3 separate regions of the Homo sapiens genome follow, and regions 2 and 3 are each linked to region 1. Evidence: fine-mapped expression QTL. A gene starts in region 1. Each other region holds a variant in brackets. All regions are shown on one strand. Distances are between the middles of the regions.

Region 1 (6,703 bases):
CAGTATAGAGAACATTTGGGATGCAAAGCTCTAAGCCAGTGTTTCAGGCAACACTCTCTGGGTGGTTTTAACAAATAATAACATCAAATAATAAATAATGGTATCAACTACCACTATGGCTGTTGCATTTTTTGAGTGCCTCCCTTGGCCGGGAACTGTGTATATATTACTCTAACCTATTACTCACAATCACACTCTAGGGAAAGCATTTTTAACCCCTGTTTTTCAAAAGTGGAAAATAAGACTCAGAGTGGTTAATAGATTTATACAAGGCCACACAGCTAGTGGGTGGCGGAGTGAGCAGAATTTCCATCTGACTCCATCTCCTTCCAAAAGTACAAAATGCACAAAAGTACGAAAATGCTTTTATTATGGATTGAAAATTTCTATCCCTCCAAATATATATCCTGAGGCTCTAAACCCCAGTATGGCCATATTTGGAAATGGGGGCTCGAAGGAAGTAAGACTTACTGAGGTCATAAAAGTAGAGTCCTGATATGATAGAATGAGTGTCTTTATAAGAGACACCAGAATGCTATTTCCCCAGGCACACACACCAAGGGAGGGCCATGTGGCTGTCTACAAGACAAGAGGTGAGCCCTCAGCAGAAACCAGGCCAGCCAGAAATGATCTTGGACTTGTCAGCCTCCAGAACACTGAGAAAATACATTTCTGGGATTTAAGTCACCCAGTCTGTGGTATTTTGTTATAGCAGCTCAAGCAGACTAATACATGTCAGTCCTGAGTTAATAATATTTCCCAGGAAGTCTCAGAGTACTATTAGGGAATGGCCCTTAAATACATGAAGTGCATGTATTAATTCCCAGCCTACCTCCTTCACCCTACATAAAGTGCAGAAAGGGTCAGGGTGTCACAGGGCCCGTTTCCTTCAATGCGTCTGTGGGAAGGACGTGTAGGTGCAGCCCACGATAGCTCAGAGAATGAGACCGGCTTCAGCTTGACCCTTTTTGCTCCAGGAAAGCATGATGTGGATCATATCTTACTTTACTCTCATAGAAATTTGCTGCTTCCTCATGTATAAATAACTAATCATGAGCAGCAGTGTGCTCCCTGTCAGAGCCTGATCAGGACCATAGAGGCAAGTGGGACTCAGCCTGGGTCTTCATGGCTGTGGGAGCCATTACTGCTCTCTGTATTCCAAGTGGAACAGTCCTGGTGTAAGGGTCTTGTTTCAGTGTCTGTGAGCATGAATGGGTGTGCGTGTGTGCACACGTGCATAAGAAGCTTGTATCCTTTCTTCTTCTAGTGAAAGGAAATCCCCTGTACCTGGGGATTGGGGGAGATAGTGAGGTGTTGGGGAGCAAGAGAGACTACAGGAAAAGATGAGGTGCTGAGGCCCACCAACCTGTTTGTCCTCACCCTTTCCATCTGCTGAAAGGTGCCTATTGGGCGTAGAATTGTCTCCAGCCCACTTCATTGGACCAGGTCATCCCAGTTAGCCTGACTGTCCTGTTTGCAGGTCAAGTATAGAGGGAATTTTGCCACAGTAAAACATGCTCTATTTTCAAGTCATATGTGAAGAAAAAATAAATGAAGGAAGGATGAGGAAAAGACCAAATGCTGCCAAGTGTCCACTACAAGCTCTGGTTTTCTGCGGGGGCCACTGAAAGGTGTACAAATTGTTCACCATAAGCCAAGGACACAAACATGTGTGTGCGTGTGTGTGTATGTATGTGTGTTTGATGCCTTAGCACAGCTCGTGTTTGATGCTTGTGATGGTTCTATTTATAAACTTTGTGCTCTCAGATGGGACAACCAGAGGCACTTCTTTCCTGCATTTCAAGTGTTTCATTTCCTTTTTAACATGTCTTTTAAATTAAGGGCATGCACACCAATGCATGGGCTCACTCTCATCTTACGGCAAGTTGATCAGACTAGGGTTAGTTGTCTGAGAAACATGGGTGGCCTTTGTCACAAACAAGAGGAGAAGCAGTTCAGGGAAGAAGAAGACTAAGGACTAGCACTGTTGTTTTGGTGGAGTTGTTTGTTAGCTGACTGTCTACAAGGCACATGTTCTATCGAATATTCAGTGTTGGGTGCTGACTGTGTTACGAGCCTTGTACATAGGATTTAAACCCCAGAGCCACTCTGTGAGGCCAGAATTGCTTTGGGATCTTTCAGATGAGGGAACCAACGTGAAGGCTTTAAATCCTATGTCCAAAGCCACACAGCGAAACCAGAGTGAAATCCGGAGCATTTGAATCAAGAGTTGAATCTTCTTTCCTCCCCGGAGGGAGAATCGCCCAGGGGCTGAGTGCAAGGGGAAAGGCTGGTTCTGAGGGGAAGAAGCTGAGCATGTTGCGGCACAGGACTTAGAAAAATTTAGAAGCATCTGCAATTGTTTTCCAGGGGAAGATACCCAAAAACAATCCAGAGAAGGAAATAAAACGAGAAGAATAGTAAGGCAACATGGAGTATAAAAGTTGCTGCATTTAGGGCGAAGGAGAGAACCTCTCTGCTCCGTGGCGATATTAAAGCTATCCCCAAGAACGGGAGGTGGGAGTGGCCTGAGGGATGACTCCTCCAGCACTGCTGCCTGCCAGCTCCGGGCTGCACAGGGCTGAGCCGGCGCCAAGAATGCCCTCTTCTGGTGATATTCTCGAAGCCCAGGAAGATAGCAAGGCAGCCGAGACCTGTGTTTTCCAGATCCTGGGTAGATTCCCTTGTCAGATGTGGTTCTACTTAAGCAAATATCACTACCTTCTCTTTTTCCTCCTCAGCCCTCAAACTAGTGATAGGGAAATTATTTCAATAAGGTAAGCTGTACCTTAGTAGAGTTTGCTTCCTTTTTTTTTTTTTTAACCCCGAATAATACTCTCTATGTCATCTGTATATTTATGATAGCTCAAAGACATGGGTGTGTGGATCTAATTAAAAATGTGAAAGGGTTTAGCAGCCTGCTGCTTCCCTGCAACTCTCTGGTTGCCAAATCTTGGCAGCCGTGTTGAACTTGAGCCAAGCGTTTAGTCCTCAGCTGAACTGCTGCCAGCCTGCGCACGGCATTGTGGGGCGAGAGCCGGAGGGGCTGCACTGCACCGAGCTTGCACAGGGCGAGGCGGGGGCAGGACCTGGGACCCAGCCACCCCGGAGGAAACCGGAGAGGAAACCAGCTTGGTCTTGCTCTCTGCCTCGTCCCAATCCCCGGCTCTTACCAAATGCAGGTAGGACCAGCTAGGCCAATTTGGTGACCGGGTAGGGCTTCAAGCTACTAGGTGGGAAATGGTCCCTACAGTTTTGCTTTCATTTAGTCGAAATCGGGCCTTTTCAGAGGAGAAACAGTTCTCCACTCTCTTGCAGTAGTTTGGGCCTGAGTTTCAACAGTCGGATGGGGCATTTCTATTGAGTTCTCTGCTGTCAGTCTGAGCTTTTTTTGATAGCTTGGCAATTGTTCTGTGTCTTCTCTCTGAAGCAGCTGAGTCCAGCACAGGGTTTCTCAAACCCTGTTGTGCACACATGTCACTTGGGAAATCTTGTGAAAATGCAGGTTTCTGAGTCTCCCCGGGGAAAGGGGAGAATTCATGTTGCCAAGATCAGAACTGACTAGAACTGCTTACGTTCCACATTATGACTCCAGACTGGAACTTTTGTGAATTCAAGGATGTTAGGCTCTGGAAAAGTACATCTTGGTGATTTGCTGTCAGAGGGAAAAACAATTCAAAGAACTCAGCATTCTCCACAATATGTTGACAAAAATAAGGGGAAAAAAAAAACATCAAAGGCATGGGTCACTTTTTATTTTTTTTTGAAATGTACCAGCTATAAGCAAATTAAAGAGGAAGAAAGGGTCGTATTCTTTGTATACAGAACACCCTCCTGCAGAGTGAAAATTCAACCCTAAAAAGATCTTCTAATATACTTGAGGGGCTGAGAGAGAGGATGAGGGGGGACTTTGCCTTTTAACTTTATATCTTGTGTATTGTTGATTTTTCATGATGATGCATTTCTTTCGTAATTAAAAGAAGAGGCAGCAGCTGCAAGACGGCCCAGGAGCCTTCTTGGCAGTGACCTTCCCCAGGGCAGGCCACCAGGGTGGGGCAAGTATGGACTTTGAAACCACTTTGTCCTGGAGTGGAAGCAGGCTCTGGCATTAAGCTTGGGGAATTTGGCTAACATTGCTGGGCCTTTGCAATTTCATCTGTGCAATGGAGAAATTGGGCCTTCATTGAGGCACAGCTGTGGGTGCCGCAGACATGTTTGTGCGGGGCTCATACCCAGGGGTCCTTAACAGGCGTTTTAAAAATTCAGAGTCTCTCTCCGATGGGGTTAGGACACTATTCCAGATAGAATTTCACCCCGGCAGACTGCTTCTGAGCACAGATATGTTCCAAAACCTCCGGATAGGAGCTAATCACTTTAGAAGTCACAAAGCCTCTGTTCATGATGTTAGAGGAGCTCCCCAAAAACGAGGCCTTGGGGAATAGCAGTGAATTTTCTCTTTCTTTTCAAATGGCAAATTTATACATATGAAAAGTCTAAATGACATGGCAAATAAATCACAAGTAGTCATAATTTAGCCGGCCACTTTTATTATGAAACAATCAAAAGCATGCAGTCGGGACGATGGAGGGAGATGCAGGCTGTGTGGCCCCTGTGCAATTAGGGGGCTGATACTTCCTTCATATCCTAAGTTGGGATGGCATGTCGCTTGCTTTGTGGTTTGGAATAATGCAGAACTGGCTGTTTCTATCACAGAAAGAGGGAGAGGGTGTGTGCCGCCAAGAATCAGGATATTTCCAGGAAAATTTCACTCCAAGAGGCTTTCTTGAATCTCATTCCTAACATGTGGGCAGATGATTGTCTAAACCACTGAGGGATGATGCTGGAGGTAAACATCTAATTAATTAAAGAAAATCTCCTTCTGCACCCCAACTCCGAAAATGCCCCGCAGTTGAGAAACACTGACACACACTCACCCACACTCACCCACACACTCACCCACACTCACACACACACTCACCCACACTCACACACACGCGCCCACACTCACACACACACTCACACATACACTCACACATACTCACACATACACTCACACACTCACCCACACTCACACACACACCCACACTCACCTACACTCACACACACTCTTACACATGTATTTGTAAAAAAAAACTCCCTGGTGACTGAGTCCTTCGGTCCACCTGCGTTTGTTAATTCCAGGTTACAAACACCTTGATCTCCATCACCCTTCTTCCAAGAATGTGTGACCACAACCCCTTCGCTCTTCCAAGCAACGTTTGCTCCAACTTAATATTCCGGTGCTTTCGGGAACAACATTTTAAAATAAACCATTTTGGCACCTTGTCAAAGTCTTGTCTAAATTCCTTCATGACAACCACTCTCAGTGAGATTTTTAAAACCAAAGGGAGTTGGGGGCAGGGAAAAGAGGAGTTCCCCGTTTAGAGTCCTAATTTTAAACAGTATCAAATAAGAATGTATTTATTTCTCCCGCCCCCTCTGTAGTTCCCTCCTGTTCCCACAGGGCATCCTCAGCCCACCTCTATCCTTCAGTCCATATCTTTATTGTCCCCTCCATGGGGTCTGGTCATCTGGGTCAGTGGGAAAGGGTCACTGGCCATTGGACAAAGAAAGGCTGGGCAGGGATGGGGCCTCGGGCAGGTGTTGAAATGTAGTTCCTGGTGTTTGGTAGTAATCACTACAAAACAATCCTGTCTGCTCCATTCCTATCAACAACCTGCTCTCCTTGGTCTGTTGCTAAGAGACCAGCCTGTTGTTTACAAGATCCTTGGTGGCGTAGACTTCCATAATTTATAATTTATTATCTTAGTGTCAAAACTTGTGTTGGTTTTTATTTTATTTCACCATAGATCCAATTATAGTTAGATACAACAAAGGTCATGCATCTGCCGGTGGCACAGTGACTGCACCAATAGTATCCCTCACCACCCCTAAGTTTAGGTGCTGCAGAAGAAAATGCTATTATTAACTGAAGATGAATATCATTTTTTGTCCACTAACTTCATGCATTATATGAGTGTTCAGGTCAATGGATTCCCTCAAGATTTGCTCACTACTGAAAACATGTTTCTGTCCAACCAAGAAGGAAATGAATTGAAATGATTTCAATTATCACAAGAAAGGAATTGAGTTTTCTTGCTGTACAGTTCAACACGTATTGACTCAACTCACCAATCCTCTCCCCGCAAAGTTCAGGGCCATAGACATTTATCCAGCACTAGACATTACTCTGGAACCACCGTAGGGTTTTGTGGATCCACAAAACCACCTTGTGAGGATATTCTCTACTTAGAATAATTCAATGAATTCAGAAAGGAAGTGATGGCACAGAAGAAAGGGTCATTGAAGTAAAACAGCTCAGTCTCAACATATCAGCTAAGAGAAGAAGAGAAACAGAAAAGTGTTAAGATCATTGCCAACATGTATTGTATCAGGCACAAGGCTAAGTGTTTAATCTGGAATAACTTATTAAAAGGTACTGACAGATCTATGAGGAAAATTCTAGTATTAGTCTCATTTTTACAGACAACAAAATCAGAGCTTTCTACCTTAAGTAAGGCACTCAACAATGCCTAGCTATTAAGTGACAGGATGGAACTCAGGCTGAGAGACTCTAGGGCCATTTTTTATTCTCATAGAAATTTTTAAAATATGTATCAGCCTGGGCTTTGGAGTTTTTTTGTCTGTTTGAGAAGAGTCCCAC
Region 2 (6,703 bases), 150 kb before region 1:
TATTTTTATGAAACAAGCCTTTTCCTGTCGGAAGAATTATAGGAATGTGATATAATACAAGGCAGTGAGATTAAAAACAATGCATCATAGCAGAGAGAAAATGCACTGTTTTATGACTTGCATCCGTTAATTGAACCTCTCAGGAATCAAGAGAAGGGCTCTGCAGGAACCTGCTGGAAAATCACTCTCTTTTTTTACTTCCATGTTCTGTTTTTTTGTTGTTGTAGTTGTTATTTTTATTTTTTATCATACATATAGATACATATATACATGCATATATATATACACACACATATTTATGGACACACACAGCCATGAATGACGTATGTTGCTTTCTGTACAATACTGTACTTTTATTTTCTTTTAATGCTGCTCACATTTGACTTAGAGTGAGGAAGTTGTGTTGAAGAGCATTAAAGAAGCTATCTGAATTCAAATCATTAGGTGGACAATTGTTAGTAGCTGTGCACAAATCCCATTAGCCTTCTGGGCCTCAGTTTTCTCTTCTGCAAGACAGGTGTGGTGATGTTGTCCTTCCAGGTTGGTTAAAGCAAAGTACAGTAAAGACAACAGGAAAGCCAAGACTCCTGTGAGATTCCAAGTGCTATATAGACTTTCTGTCCTGATTATCTTGAGTTGAGACCATGGTTGGGCTGCTTTTTGCCACATATACTGTGATATTGACACAGATTTATATTTTATTGTCAGGTGAATTTTGTTTTTTACTTGAATTTCCCCATCATTGCAACAACACAGCAAGCTACGCAAAAGTGATTAATGATCAGTTTCATGGTTTGAAGGAAATCCCTTTCAAAGACAGTCCGGTGCCCCATCTCTGATTACATCCATGCAGACTCAATATTTGGGTGCAGTGCTGGACCCATGCCTCTCCCTGGAATGTCAACACCAAGGGGAGGTTTCCCAAGAAAGGATGAGACCTGACTTAGTCATCTGGCACAATGCCAGGGTCAATGGTCAATCTTTATCTGATTATACAGGGTCTTTGATTTGAAATTCACTATGTTAATTCAGGCTGAAAGAGTCCTTTATGATCAATATTTAAATCGTAATTAACTGCATTCACTTGCTATTTTTGTACGTCTGATTCTTCTTACGATGTTAAATCAGGTTCTTCCCTGGTTTCAGCATTTCATATTTCAAAACAATATTCTCTATCAAATTTGACCAGTATCTAGGAAAACAAGATCTCTCCTGGCTTTCCTGGAGTGCTGATAATGAGACCTTTCTTTCTTTCAGTTGGTTAAGATTAAAGTCTAAGTCACTTCATTCATTCATTTCATTATTCACCCACCTCATTCATTCACTCATCCATCCATTCCTGCATTCACCTTTCAAATAGTTTTGAGCACAGCTCCTAGCACCTGAAGCTATGTGTTTTCTCTTGGCAATACTGTGAAAAAAATTTATAGTCCAGTGGGTTTGGGCAACAAGTAAACAAGTGACTCAGACACTGATAGAAGTGCCAGGAGAGCAGCAGGTGCTTGTTAGGGGAGTGTCGGAGGAGGCAAAACAGGGCCACTTAATCTGGTCTAGGAAGGGAGTGGTCAGGAGAGCTCCCCAGAAATGTCAACCAGTCACTGGGGATAGAAGGACTAGTCTGAGATGAGAAATGACAGTAGGGGAATTGGCAGAGGTGAGAGGAACAGCACATGTAAGGGCTTAACTCAGGAGGTCAGTGGAGTGAATTTGTATGGTACTTGTTCTCTTTCTTCCATCCAATCATCTTCAGGAAACAGTACTTAGCATTGTTAAGGGGGAACCACTCCCTCTTGTTCTCAGATGTAATTAATAGCAAAATTAACCCCTGGGTCTAGTTTCAGGAGTGGACTCTCATTGGCTTTACCGATTATTGTACCCATCCCTTTGGCCACTGTGATTGGTTCAAGGATGAGTACACAACCCAATCAGAGACAAGGAAATATGAAGTATTTATTGGAGATTCTGAGAAAGGGAAGCCTTATTTTTCTTCATAGGATCTCTCGGCACTCTTTCTTTTTCTCTGGATAGTAGTTTGTAAGGGTGTAAAGTCTGCAACAGCTACAGCCATTTTTTTTTTAATCAATGAGGAAGAATCCAGAACATCCAGAATATTGCATAGAGGGTGAAGCCAGCATCGTGAAAGGCAGTACAGAAAGGTAGGGAGAAAATGGATGCCTATCATTCACGTGGCTAGGTCTGTGGTTGGCAAGCTCAAGAGCCAGGAGACCCAGTGATTTAGTTCCAGTCCAAGTCTGAGCATCGAGAGAGTCTATAGTATAAGTTTCTGTCTGAAGGCCAGCAGACTCTCAGCCCAGAAAGAGATTTGACACAGGAAAAAAAAAACCCTATGTTCCAGCTCAAGGCAGTCAGGTAGCAGACGTTCCCCATAACGTAGGACAAGGTCAGCCTTTTTATTCTATTCAGGCCTTCAACTGATTGGTTAAGGCCCACTCAAATTCAGAAGGGCAGTATGCTTTATCCAAAGCCCACCAATTTAAATGTTAATCTCATTCCAAAACAGCCTCATAAAAACACTCAGAATAATGTGCGATCAAATATCTAATTAGTCTGCAATCCAGTCAAGCTGACGCATAAAATTAACCACAACAGGCAGGAACTAGGACTTTGTGTGAGTATCCATAATGTATAATGTAGTGCCTGGTACACGGTAGGTGCTCAATAAATACTTCTGAATAAAGTTCATAAATAGCCAGGCTGGCTGGTAATTTTTAGCAAAGAAGACACAGCATTTGGATATGGTATTTATCTTTAAGAGCATAAAGTTCAATTTGATAACCCCTGGCTCATGCACTACTTACTCCTGACCTCTCCACTGGTGAACTTGAGCCGAAGGTTGTGTTCAGCTTCTCATCATTTCTGATTTGGAAGGAGCTTTTCCAAGAGTTCAGAGGCTCCTTTCAAAACTGAGCCTGAGCCTCCTAGCAACCACAGTCACAGGACCTGAGCAGCCAAACCCATTCTGCCTTCAGGGTTGCCCCTCTCTCCCCATGCACACACATTACAGCAGCCCCTTCCAGCCACACAGCCACTGAGCATTTCTGTAGCCTCAGTGTGCAGCTGTGCAAATAAGCACCCTTGGCTCTGAGGTATGCCATTCCCCAGGAACATGACATTGAGCACCAAATCCCAGGACTTATCCTCTGTTTTCAGCCCTCTTTCCAGAAAAGCTACATGATGTGAGTCCTGAGCTCTATCTGATTGGACTCCTTCCATATCTGAACTCTTTCACTCTGGCCTCTAGTTCCAAGTCCTGCTTCCTGTGGTTTGAGTGTTGCTTGTGTGGTCAACACGCTCATGCCTGACAGTGACTCTGGAAATGACAACTATATTGAAAAGAGGAGGCTTACTTTGTGTGTATATGTAGGGGAGGAACCAGATCTGGCAAGCAGGAAAGATGATTTTGACTCAAAGTGAAGATGAAGCTATGTCCAGGGATAGTTCAGAATATGGGATCATGGGCAAGTTATATATTCAAGATCCTGAGTTTGACTTGGTCAGGCCTTGAGTCTGCTCTCCACCATGTCTTGGACAGGTAGGGATAAAAATGATCAGAGAATGAGAACAGGATGAAGGAAGCAATGATGGACAAGGAGAGAGAGTTTTGGAAGCTTGGGCTTGTGCAACAGAAAAGACTTTTTGATTGAAGGTGGGGCATGGGCAGGTTTGCTCTGCACAC[G/A]TGTAAGTGATGGGAGCCCCTTTATAACTTGGCTGTGTGGTCATCGGGAGGTGACTCTTCCTTATTTATTCTTATCGTCCAGAAGAGAGTGAAATCCTCCAAGTCCCCCCACCCCACCTTTTTTTTTTTTCACTTTTCTAGGCCAGTTTGGGAGAGGAGGTTCTGCTTAGATATCTACAGTGGCCCAGGTCAAAGAAAGTCAGTCATTGCAAACCTTCACTAGGTCTTTGCATATCAGAGATGCCAATCATTTCTATCCACGGTGAGCTTTAGCACAGTCAGGAATCAGGATGATTAACAACAGGACTGGCTCTGTTCTGTGGAATGATGTAAGTGGTGGATGGTGCCAAGTCCATGATACACAGAAGCAGATTACATTACAGTTAGAGCCAATATTTTCTCAACATGAACTTAAACTGCTCTACTTCTGAGAATGATTATACATCCCTGAGATGCCACATCTGTGTAGATTTGTATGTTCATGTGTGTATGTTCACATGCTTTTATTGAGCATCGACTGTAGGGTAGGCAATGTTCTGGATAAAGGTGATATGGCACATCGTCTTTACTGGGTTGAAGTTTGCCATCTGGTGAAAAAGAGATGCATTAGATAAATGATTATGAATGCACTCAACAGTCAGGATAGTAGGAAATTGTCAGATGCAGAATTGAGCTCTGAGGATCTATTGTTTCCTCTGGGCACTCATTTGAGAATCGGGACCAAGTCCCACTTGCTATGTAAAATGGGGGCAAGTGTGTGTCTCAGGGGTTCAGGAAGAGCAATCAGTTTAGTGGTCACTTTGTGACTTTGTATAGATCTGCTTTATTCAGACTGATCACCCATTTTCCAATTGCTGCAAGTCTTGGCTGTTGTAGGCTCAAAGCTGCACCATTCTGTAGAGAATCACCCTCTGCTGTTAGAACTCCTCACCCTAGAAATTGCATTTTCCACCCACCCACCACAACACAGGTGGCCTGCAGCTAATAGCTAACTGATGCATGGGAACAATCGTCTGGAGTCAAGTCACCAAGGGGACCAACATTGTGGTGCCATTTATACCCCAGAGCTTCTGTGGGATCAGGCATGAGTGAGTCTGCATCTGAGACTTCATCCTTGCTCAGCATCTTCACCTGCCCATTCCCTGATTTCCTCCCTCTTTTTAAAGTTTCTTTCACAGTAAATCACTTGCACAAAGATCTCCATCTCAGGCTCTGCTTCTTGGGACCACAAGCTCAGTGATGTGCAGTAGGGCAGGGTGACCTCACAAGGGATTAGCGATAACATCTTCTGCTCAGTGCTTACTTAGTTGCTAGGGCCTAAACCTATTCCTTATACATCCCAGACAATGGTCAGGGGCAAATGAATAATTGATGGTCCATATTAAATAATCCAGAAGAAGCTTCTAGTTTATCCCCTGCTGAATTCTTAAAACTCTATGGCTTTGAGCTCCGAGGGAAAGACAAGCAGATCTCAGCAGAAGCAGCTGGTTGGAAGCTGACAAAAGGAAACTAATTTGGGGTTCAGCTAGGGTTAACTCACTGGAGAGACCATTGGACTTTAAGTCTTAAAGATAAAGGAGGAAATGGTCATTGGCCATGGTGATGAGGGCTACCAGAAGTCACAACTCCAAGTAGAAGCTATAAACATTCAATGGGTGACAATGGTTCTACTTTGGAGACACAACAGATGATAATTATACTCATTAGAGTAACAATTTATTACAAGCTTATAAAGTGTCATTCTATATAGAATGCATATTATATCCCTAACATCCCCCTCAAAATGCTACTGTGGCAAATGTTATTACTCTGATTTTCCAGGTGGAAAACTGCATTTCAAGGTGAGTTATCTATGTGTTGGAGATGAGCTTTAAAGCTTGGTCTAGCAGATCCCAAATCCAGCATATTTATTTGACTCCAAGTCAAAGGCCAACATTTTGACAGCAGATTGTTTCTTTTGTTTGTTTGGTTTTCACTAAGACACTTAATATGTATGTGACAAAGAATTACCCTTGGTGAGTGTTGCTCAGTTGTACCTGGGCAGTGCCCAAGCCAGCATTAACCAACTCCTAAAGGCAAGTATGATAACTGCTGGGCCTGAAGACTGTACCACCTGCTCACAGCATCTCAACAAAACCACCCAGGTACAGGAACGTGAATTTAAGCGGCTTTTGTGCTTTGAATTTCCCTGATCATTCCTTCACTTTATATTTCACTTTGTATATCAGACATTCCTTGTGAAATGACGTTGAAATAATAAAGTCTAGAGAAATGGCACCCAAATTGATGGTTAAAAATTATGGCAGAGTTTGGAAATAAATTCTTACAATTTACATGAGAAATTCGGTGTTTTGTGGGGCAGGGTTAAGGGGGGACTAGACTGGCAGTCTAGTCTTGAGATACATGGGCACAGTTGTAATAAATATAGAAACATTTGCTCTCAGAGGTGTCTGTTGTGTCAAATAGACTGATGGGCAGTGGGGAAGTGAGGTGGAGGAAAAGGGAAAGAATTTCCACAGGGAGGAAGAAACGGATGTTGTGACTTCTTCAGTCATTGATACAGTCATTCTTAACATGTAAGGAACAGAGTGTCTCTTTTGCAGATAACTGTCCTTATGCTTTACGATTTCAAGACACAGTGTCTAATTGGCCTAGCGATTATAAAGTCCTGCTCACCAGGTGACCCAGTTGACTTAGACTCATCTCAATGGGGATGATGATGATGATGACAGAAATAGCAATAACAACAAAGCAGCCACAGTAATCATCATTCCCAGTTACTGAGTGTTTGCTTTTCCACATGAGACATTAAACAGAAATGTCTGTAGACTCTGTTGCAACTAGAAATTCTCTTTGGTTTGGAAGACTCAAGAAAGAAAATATGGTAACATTTTTGAGGATTTGCTCTGTGCAAGATGCTTGACACTTTATATAGGGTATGTTATCGAATACTAATAGCAGTCCCTACAAGAAACAGGACATAACCCTCATGAGGAAAAAGAGGCT
Region 3 (6,703 bases), 12 kb after region 1:
TCAGTCAAAATCGTCTTTTCCTGCTGGTAAATAACACTGAAATGTAAGTGCCAACTGTTAGTCTTTCTTATCTGGAGTCTTCTTCCCAAGTTTTTATTTTATGTGAAAGCATTGTGTTCTCAGCAGTTATTTTGGTCTCCATATTTTATAGCCAACCCCTTTGATTTAAAATATTACAGAAGGCTCTGTTCCATCCCTTTTTCTTCCTAAACTGATTTTTGCAAAACCCTTAATCTGGGCTTGAAGGAAATACAATCTTTTCCTACACAATTTTACTTCTTTTTTTTTTTTTTTTTTCAGATGAGTCTCACTCTGTTGCACAGGCTGGAGTGCAGTGGTGCAATCTCGGCTCGCTGCAACCTCCGTCTCCCGGATTCAAGCGATTCTCCTGCCTCAGCCTCCCGAGTAGCCAGGACTACAGAAACGCACCACCACATCCAGCTAATTCTTGTATTTTTAGTAGAGACGGGGTTTGCCTGTGTTGGCCAGGCTGGTCTCGAACTCCTGACCTCAGGCGATCCACCCACCTCGGCCTCCCACAGTGCTGCGATTACGTGAAGAGAAAGAATGAGAAATGCATCTGAGCCTCACTCCACCAAAACAACACACTTTCCCACCTCTCACTCCACTCCAATGAATGTCTATGAGTTTTCAGACTCCCTGTCAATGGTCTTAGGTAAATGCAGTAGTATCTGCTTTTTAGAATTTATAAGACAAGGGCCATGCTGGGTGCATTGGCTCATGCCTGTAATCCTAGCACTTTAGGAGGCTGAGGCAGGCAGATCACCTAAAGTCAGGGGTTTGAGACCAGCCCAAAATGGCAAAACCACGTCTATATTAAAAATACAAAAATTAGCCGGGCATGGTGGCATAAGCCTGTAATCCCAGCTACTCAGAAGGCTAAGACAGGAGAATCGCTTGAACCCAGGAGGCGGAGGTTGCAGTGAGCCAGGATTGCACCACTGCACTCCAGCCTTGGTGAAAGAGTCAGACTCTGTCTCAAAAAAAAAAAAAAAAAAAAGAAGAAGACAATGGCCAGTGCCTTAAAATGAGCAGAAAATTTTCTGTCAGGTATCCTTGGATCCCCTTCCTCTCCTGCAGCATATTGGGCTTACTTTTGCTCATTCCCTCATGCCTTAGCTTCTTCATCTGTCAAATGGAGAGAAAATACTCTTTCAGTCCTTTGTGTAGGAAAAAGTGATAATGGCTCCAGAAGTTTCCTGTCAACTCGGAAGCACTATATAAACAAATCAGACTGCCACCAGTAATCAAAAAAGGAAGGTCTAATACCTCAGACTTATAACTTGTATAGTAAATTTCTAGTTTAAGTTGTTCAACTAAAAAAGTAGAGGACATTTGGTTAAGAGAAAATGAGATTTCAAACACATTATGGTCAAGTTTAAATGGTATTGTTTGTTTCATTTTGCTAATGGAAGAAGGTCTAGTATTTTTCAAGAGTCAGTCATTGGGAACCAGCCCTTAATTGCAGAGTGTTATGGAAAGATCCATGGTGTCTAGGGTCTGTTGGGGAATTTGAGGAATTCTACAGCAAGAGCATTGTGCTCCAAGAGTACACAGCAGAGCTGGGGCTATCGCAATCCCATAAAACAGATAAAATCGGACTCAGAACACAGCTGTATTAGTCCATTCTCACGCTGCTATAAGGACATACCTGAGACTAGGTAATTTATAAAGGAAGAGGTTTAAGTGACTCACAGTTCTGCAGGGCTGGGGAAGCCTCAGGAAACTTACAATCATGGCAGTAGGAGAAGGAAACACATCCTTCTTCACATAGTGGCAGCAAGGAGAAGTATGAGTGAAGTGGGGGAAAAGCCCCTAAAAAAAAACATCAGATCTTGTAAGAATCACTATCATGAGAACAGCATGGGGGTAACTGCCCCCATGATTCAATTACCTCCAACCAGGTCCCTCCCATGACACAATATGTGGAGATTATGGGAACTATAGTTCATGATGAGATTTGGGTGGGGACACAGCGAAACCATTAACAGCTATCAACAGCTTTGTTAGCATCCAGAGAAGGCTGAAAGAGGAAGAAGAGAAAGATGTGGGGCCAGCACAGAAGACTTCCTGGAGTGACTGTGGCCCCACCTGGGTGCACAGGGGTCACAGCAGTCAGAGAGCATAGCAGAGAGAAGGCACTCCTGTGTGAGACCTCCAGGTGAAACTGGGGTGGGGGTGGAAAGAGTATTTATAAGAGATGAATAAACAGGTTAACAAGGAATGAAATGTATTGGGCTTTGAAAGTCAAATGCCATAGCAGCTTGAATTTGATCATTTCATCTGTAGGGAAAATGGGGAGTAGGGGACATTGGAAGGTGGAAAGGCCTAAAAAGCTCACCTTGAAAATCCATCAAGACATTCTTTAAATTTAAATGTAAAACTGTTACTATACCAATACTTATGGCTCCTTTTCCGAGAAAGCCCTCCCCGTGTCTCTTCCCTGCTAATTCCTGGCCATCTTTCTGGCCTTAACAAGGTGCCGTTTTCTCCACCAGCCCCACCCAAACATCTCTCCTTCTCACAGAGGTGGGTCACCCAGAGTGGTCCAAACTTCCCTAATCAAAACAGCCTTTACACATCCTGTGGCTTACAATTCCTTCCTACCCCTGTGACCCTCCTCTTCTTTCCCTATTTAACATTATGAAAACTCTCATCAGTTTGCATTCAATGAATCCTCACCTACTCTGTGCACCTTGTCCCACAAGCCTCCCCTGATTGTAAACCCTCCACAGAGGTCTCGGATGACACCTTGTGAGCCACCAGGCTGTGGGGAGATTCCTCTCTTCCCTCATCAATGTCTTTACCCAGTGAGGTTAAGAAAGCCAGGGCAGGCTGAACTAGGAATTCCCTTGGTTCTAACAGAAAATATGGTCACTTTAAATGACCTAATTGTCCTGTCTAAACACTTCTCTCCTGGGATAATTGAAAATGCTCTTTTAGTCTAGCTCACAATTCCTCACCTCCAGGCCCCCAGGGTTCCAGTAGGCGGGTGGTGGGAGTCCATTAGTCACTCACCTTCTGCCCTTTCTGGTCTCAGCTGGGCTCTTATCACCTGTACCTGGGCCTCCTGGTCTCAAGAGGTCCATGACTGCCTCTCTGTAAGCTCCAGCAAAAGATGGTGAGGTTCAAGCAATTGCCTTTCTTATTCTAATGAGCCTTGCTTCTAACAGAACATGAGAAGGGTTAGTGTGAGTACTCCAGAAGGAAAGAAATTAAAGGAGAGAAACAATAAATTAATGTAATAGAGTGGGCAGAAAAAAATGCTTAGATATGAGATATTCCTGGTTTAACTACATGACTTTCACATGTGATATGGTCTGTCACACCTTGAGCCTCCTTATCTGTAGAATGAAGATATCAGTTCACACTCTGCTGTGAGACTAGAATTTGTATGTGATGC[A/G]CCTGGCATAGTGCCTCAGACACAGGCCCTAAAATTGGTACCTAGTCCAATAGTGGTTGTCATTATACCAAAGAGTACCAATGACTTTAAAAGCTGAGGTTTCTAGCCTTATCAGGACCCACATCTAGAGAGGGTAGAATTGTATTTTCCATACCTATTAGAAGTGGAGTCCTCCAATGTTTACCTCTTGGGCATTTTATAGAATTGAATGGTTTGAGGGGGCACTGAGACCCACCCCCTCTTCAGGTTACTCATACACTGTCTTGAAAATAAAGAAATCCATCTAAAAAAGGATAGATGAGTCCTGCTTACAATGGCCACTCTTAGAAAATATTAAGCCACTTCCCTGGATAATAAAGGAACAACAGAGAAGTGAACACATTCATGGTAGATTCTCATCCTAAGAGAGTAGCACTAAACCCTCTCCCTCCTGTTGTCAATGCCTCTTCAATTTAAAGAATGAACTGCACCTCATAAGAATTGAATTTGCTTATTGATTAATCCATATATATGCAGCACTTGATACCATAAGCCATCATGCTGGAATACAATGTGCTCTGAACTACAGGTGTCTAGTCATTTTAAGTATAAAAATTAGGTAATTATAGCCAGAAGTATTCATTAAAATTTGAAAGTAGATAAATAAAAGAGAACATTGATATCTAGTCATTAAACTTCTACAAATAAAATGTGAAATGAGAAAAAAATGAAACAAAACAAAATCCTTCCTATTATCTTCCCCTCAAATCCCTTTTTTTTTCCTTATGAATCAGATGCGGCATCTCCAGGGAATAGTTATTTCTTCCCTCTATGCATGAAGCAGAGCAGGTTGCGGGGGGGGCGGTGTCCACCCGGGAATGGGGGAGGTCCCTAAAGCAGAAGGTGGCTCCATCATCTGCAATTCCCATCAGAAACCTACCTCAAAGGCTATAGGTCAGACATTGTTTATGGGGTAGGGAGAAGGGCAGGGCTGGGGGGAGCCCACAGTGTGTGATTCTCAAAATGTTGAAAAGGCCAGAGCACAAATACATCTCCACAATTACACTTTGACTTTCTATAAGTGCTGTTTGGAGTCTGAGGAAGTCAGAGAGAGAGGGTGAGTGCTGAGTCTGTGCTCGCAAATTCTTCAGTGAAATGGGAAAAGACAAGTTAATGGTTAGTTGTCTCCATGTGGGTGGGTGCGGGTGGAAGGGCAGAGCTGGGAGATGGTAGGATTTCAACATCAGTTGAAAAAAACAGGCCACGCAGGCTCCCCCCAGACAAGCTGATTTTCCCCCAGTGAATTCACCAGGGAAAAGGGATTTGGAGGCAAGATCTCATTACTAATTTTGTTAAAAACCCACCTGCGAACACAGTGAAATGAATAGTCCCTGGGACTTGGGGGTTTTGGCTGTGTGCTCAGGTGTAGACAGACCTTAACCTCATCAGCTGCTTGACTTCGGGGCTCTTGATAAAATATAAGGTGTTCTTCAATATAAGGGGAATATGGATGCAGCTAGAAACCCAGCCCTGAGCTTGTGGATGGTCACCCCAGGCCAGCTCACAGTACCGATGTGAATCATCTGTGAGCAAATGATAATGAATGACAAAAAAGGCTTGTATCCAGAGGCAAACAACCTCAGGAGGTTATTTTCACTACCTTGCCCATATTTATATGTGGGGTCATGCATCTGTTAGGACTTTCTGTCCGTGGCATTTATTATCTCACGTTATATCTGAACATTTCCGAGGTTTCTGGCTACAGAGGAGGCTGATCAAGAGGCTTAATCATGTCATCAAGGACCTGGTTCTTCTAAGTCTGTTCTTTCTGTATCCCTTGGTGTTGGCCCTGTCCTCAGGCTCCATGTCATGCCTTCCTCAAAATCCCCAGCTCTCCTTTCACTGCAGCAAAATGATTGCCATAGCTCTGTTCCTCACATCTTTCTATCACTCCACCCATAGACAAGGAGGGTCTACTTTTGTGGCTGTGTCTGGTGGCCAGTCTCTAAGGTGATGCCCAGTGATCCTTGCTTCTTGGCATTCACACCCTTGTGTAATCTCTTCCTTTTGAGTGTGGGACAGGCTTGGTGGCTTAATGATTGAGATGTCAGGTCCCAGATTAGGTGATGGTAGATGGTGACATGCTTTTGTTTTTCCATCCCTTCTCTGACTGAGTGAGCAAGCTGCCCTGTGGAGGCCTCAGGTGACCAGACACTGAGAACAGTCTCTACCCAATAACAAGCAAGGAACTGAAACCTTCAGTCTAACAGCTCAGGAAGAACCAAGCCCTCCAACAGCCCCATGAGTGGGCCTGGAAGCAGACCCTTTCCTGGCCAAGCCTTGGGATAGCTGCAGGTTTAGCTGATACCTTGATGGTAGCCTGGGGATAACCTGGATGCAGAAGTCCCAGCTAAGCAACCTGGAATTGCTGACCCACAAAACCTCGGGGATAAAACATGCTTGTTGTTTTAGTCCAAAAAGTCTTGGGGTAGTTGTTATGCAGCAAGATATCATAAGCACACTCCCATAGAAAAGGAAAGGTGTTTCTTTTTTCAAGTTCCAAGGTGTTTCTTTTTCCAAGGACCGCATCCTTGATTCTTCTTGGCTCTGAATGCTGTATGTACGTCTCTAAACCAAAGGTTGCATTCAGAGATAATGACTTTGAGATCTAGAGACAGGAGGGGCCTGGATTTGTGATAGAAGGAGCTGGTCTTCTGTCTTAATGTTCCCTTACTTCCTAGCTGTGTGCTGGGATGAGTCACTGAGCCTCGCAAAAACTCCTCTTGCTCATCTATGCAGTAGCAGGTGAAATTATGTCCCCCAAAGAAACCAGGCCAAGTCCTGATCTCCACGCTTGTGAATGTGACTTTATTTGGAAATAGGGTCTTTGCAGAAGTAATTGCGGTCATCTGGATTTAGGATGGGACCCAAAGCCCAACAACTGGTGTCCTTGTAAGAGAGAGGAAAGGAAGATTGGACATACGCAGACATAGAAGAGACGACAAACAAGAAGGCCATGTGAGGATGGAGGCAGAAATGGGAGTGTGGCAGCCGCAAGCCAAGGAATACCAAGGACTGCCGGCAGACACCCAAAGCTAGGAGGGAGGCATGGGTGGGATTCTCCTTCACAGCCCCCAAAGGAAGTAACCCTGCTGCCGCTTTGATTTCAGAGTTCTGCCTTCATACTATGACAGAGCAGGTTTCTATTGTTTTAAGCCACCGTGCTTTGGTACTTTGTTATAGCAGCCTTAGGAAGCTGTTAATAACACATATGGGTAACAATAATCGGTGCTGCTGTGA

Direction of the effects. Alleles are on the strand shown, and positions count from the first base shown. SD is a standard deviation of normalised expression in the study named.
As copies of G replace A in region 2, the expression in adrenal gland of the gene that starts at base 3,035 in region 1 goes up (moderate effect, 0.41 SD a copy in GTEx).
For the expression in sigmoid colon of the gene that starts at base 3,035 in region 1, allele A in region 3 goes with a higher level than allele G (small effect, 0.24 SD a copy in GTEx).

The links. PIP is the estimated chance that this variant, and not a neighbour inherited with it, causes the effect. A credible set is the group of variants that fine-mapping cannot tell apart.
Region 2: its variant is the best candidate, but not a certain one, in a credible set for the expression of LINC01550 in adrenal gland (GTEx, PIP 0.75).
Region 3: its variant is the best candidate, but not a certain one, in a credible set for the expression of LINC01550 in sigmoid colon (GTEx, PIP 0.82).

The regions. Positions count from the first base shown.
Region 1 is chr14:97,974,456-97,981,158 of GRCh38, reverse strand. LINC01550 (long intergenic non-protein coding RNA 1550) reads left to right here and starts at 3,035. Exons shown (of 3, transcript NR_015430.2): 1 at 3,035-3,182. RefSeq lists an enhancer at 2,536-3,035.
Region 2 is chr14:98,128,210-98,134,912 of GRCh38, reverse strand. All of the region lies in intron 1 of LOC105370655 (a long non-coding RNA gene), which reads left to right. Among named protein-coding and RNA genes, the nearest start is that of LINC02295, 4.4 kb to the left of the region's middle. The variant G/A (reference allele first, on the strand shown) is at 3,698.
Region 3 is chr14:97,962,613-97,969,315 of GRCh38, reverse strand. LINC01550 (long intergenic non-protein coding RNA 1550) reads left to right here. Exons shown (of 3, transcript NR_015430.2): 2 at 1-43. Among named protein-coding and RNA genes, the nearest start is that of LINC01550, 12 kb to the left of the region's middle. The variant A/G (reference allele first, on the strand shown) is at 3,425.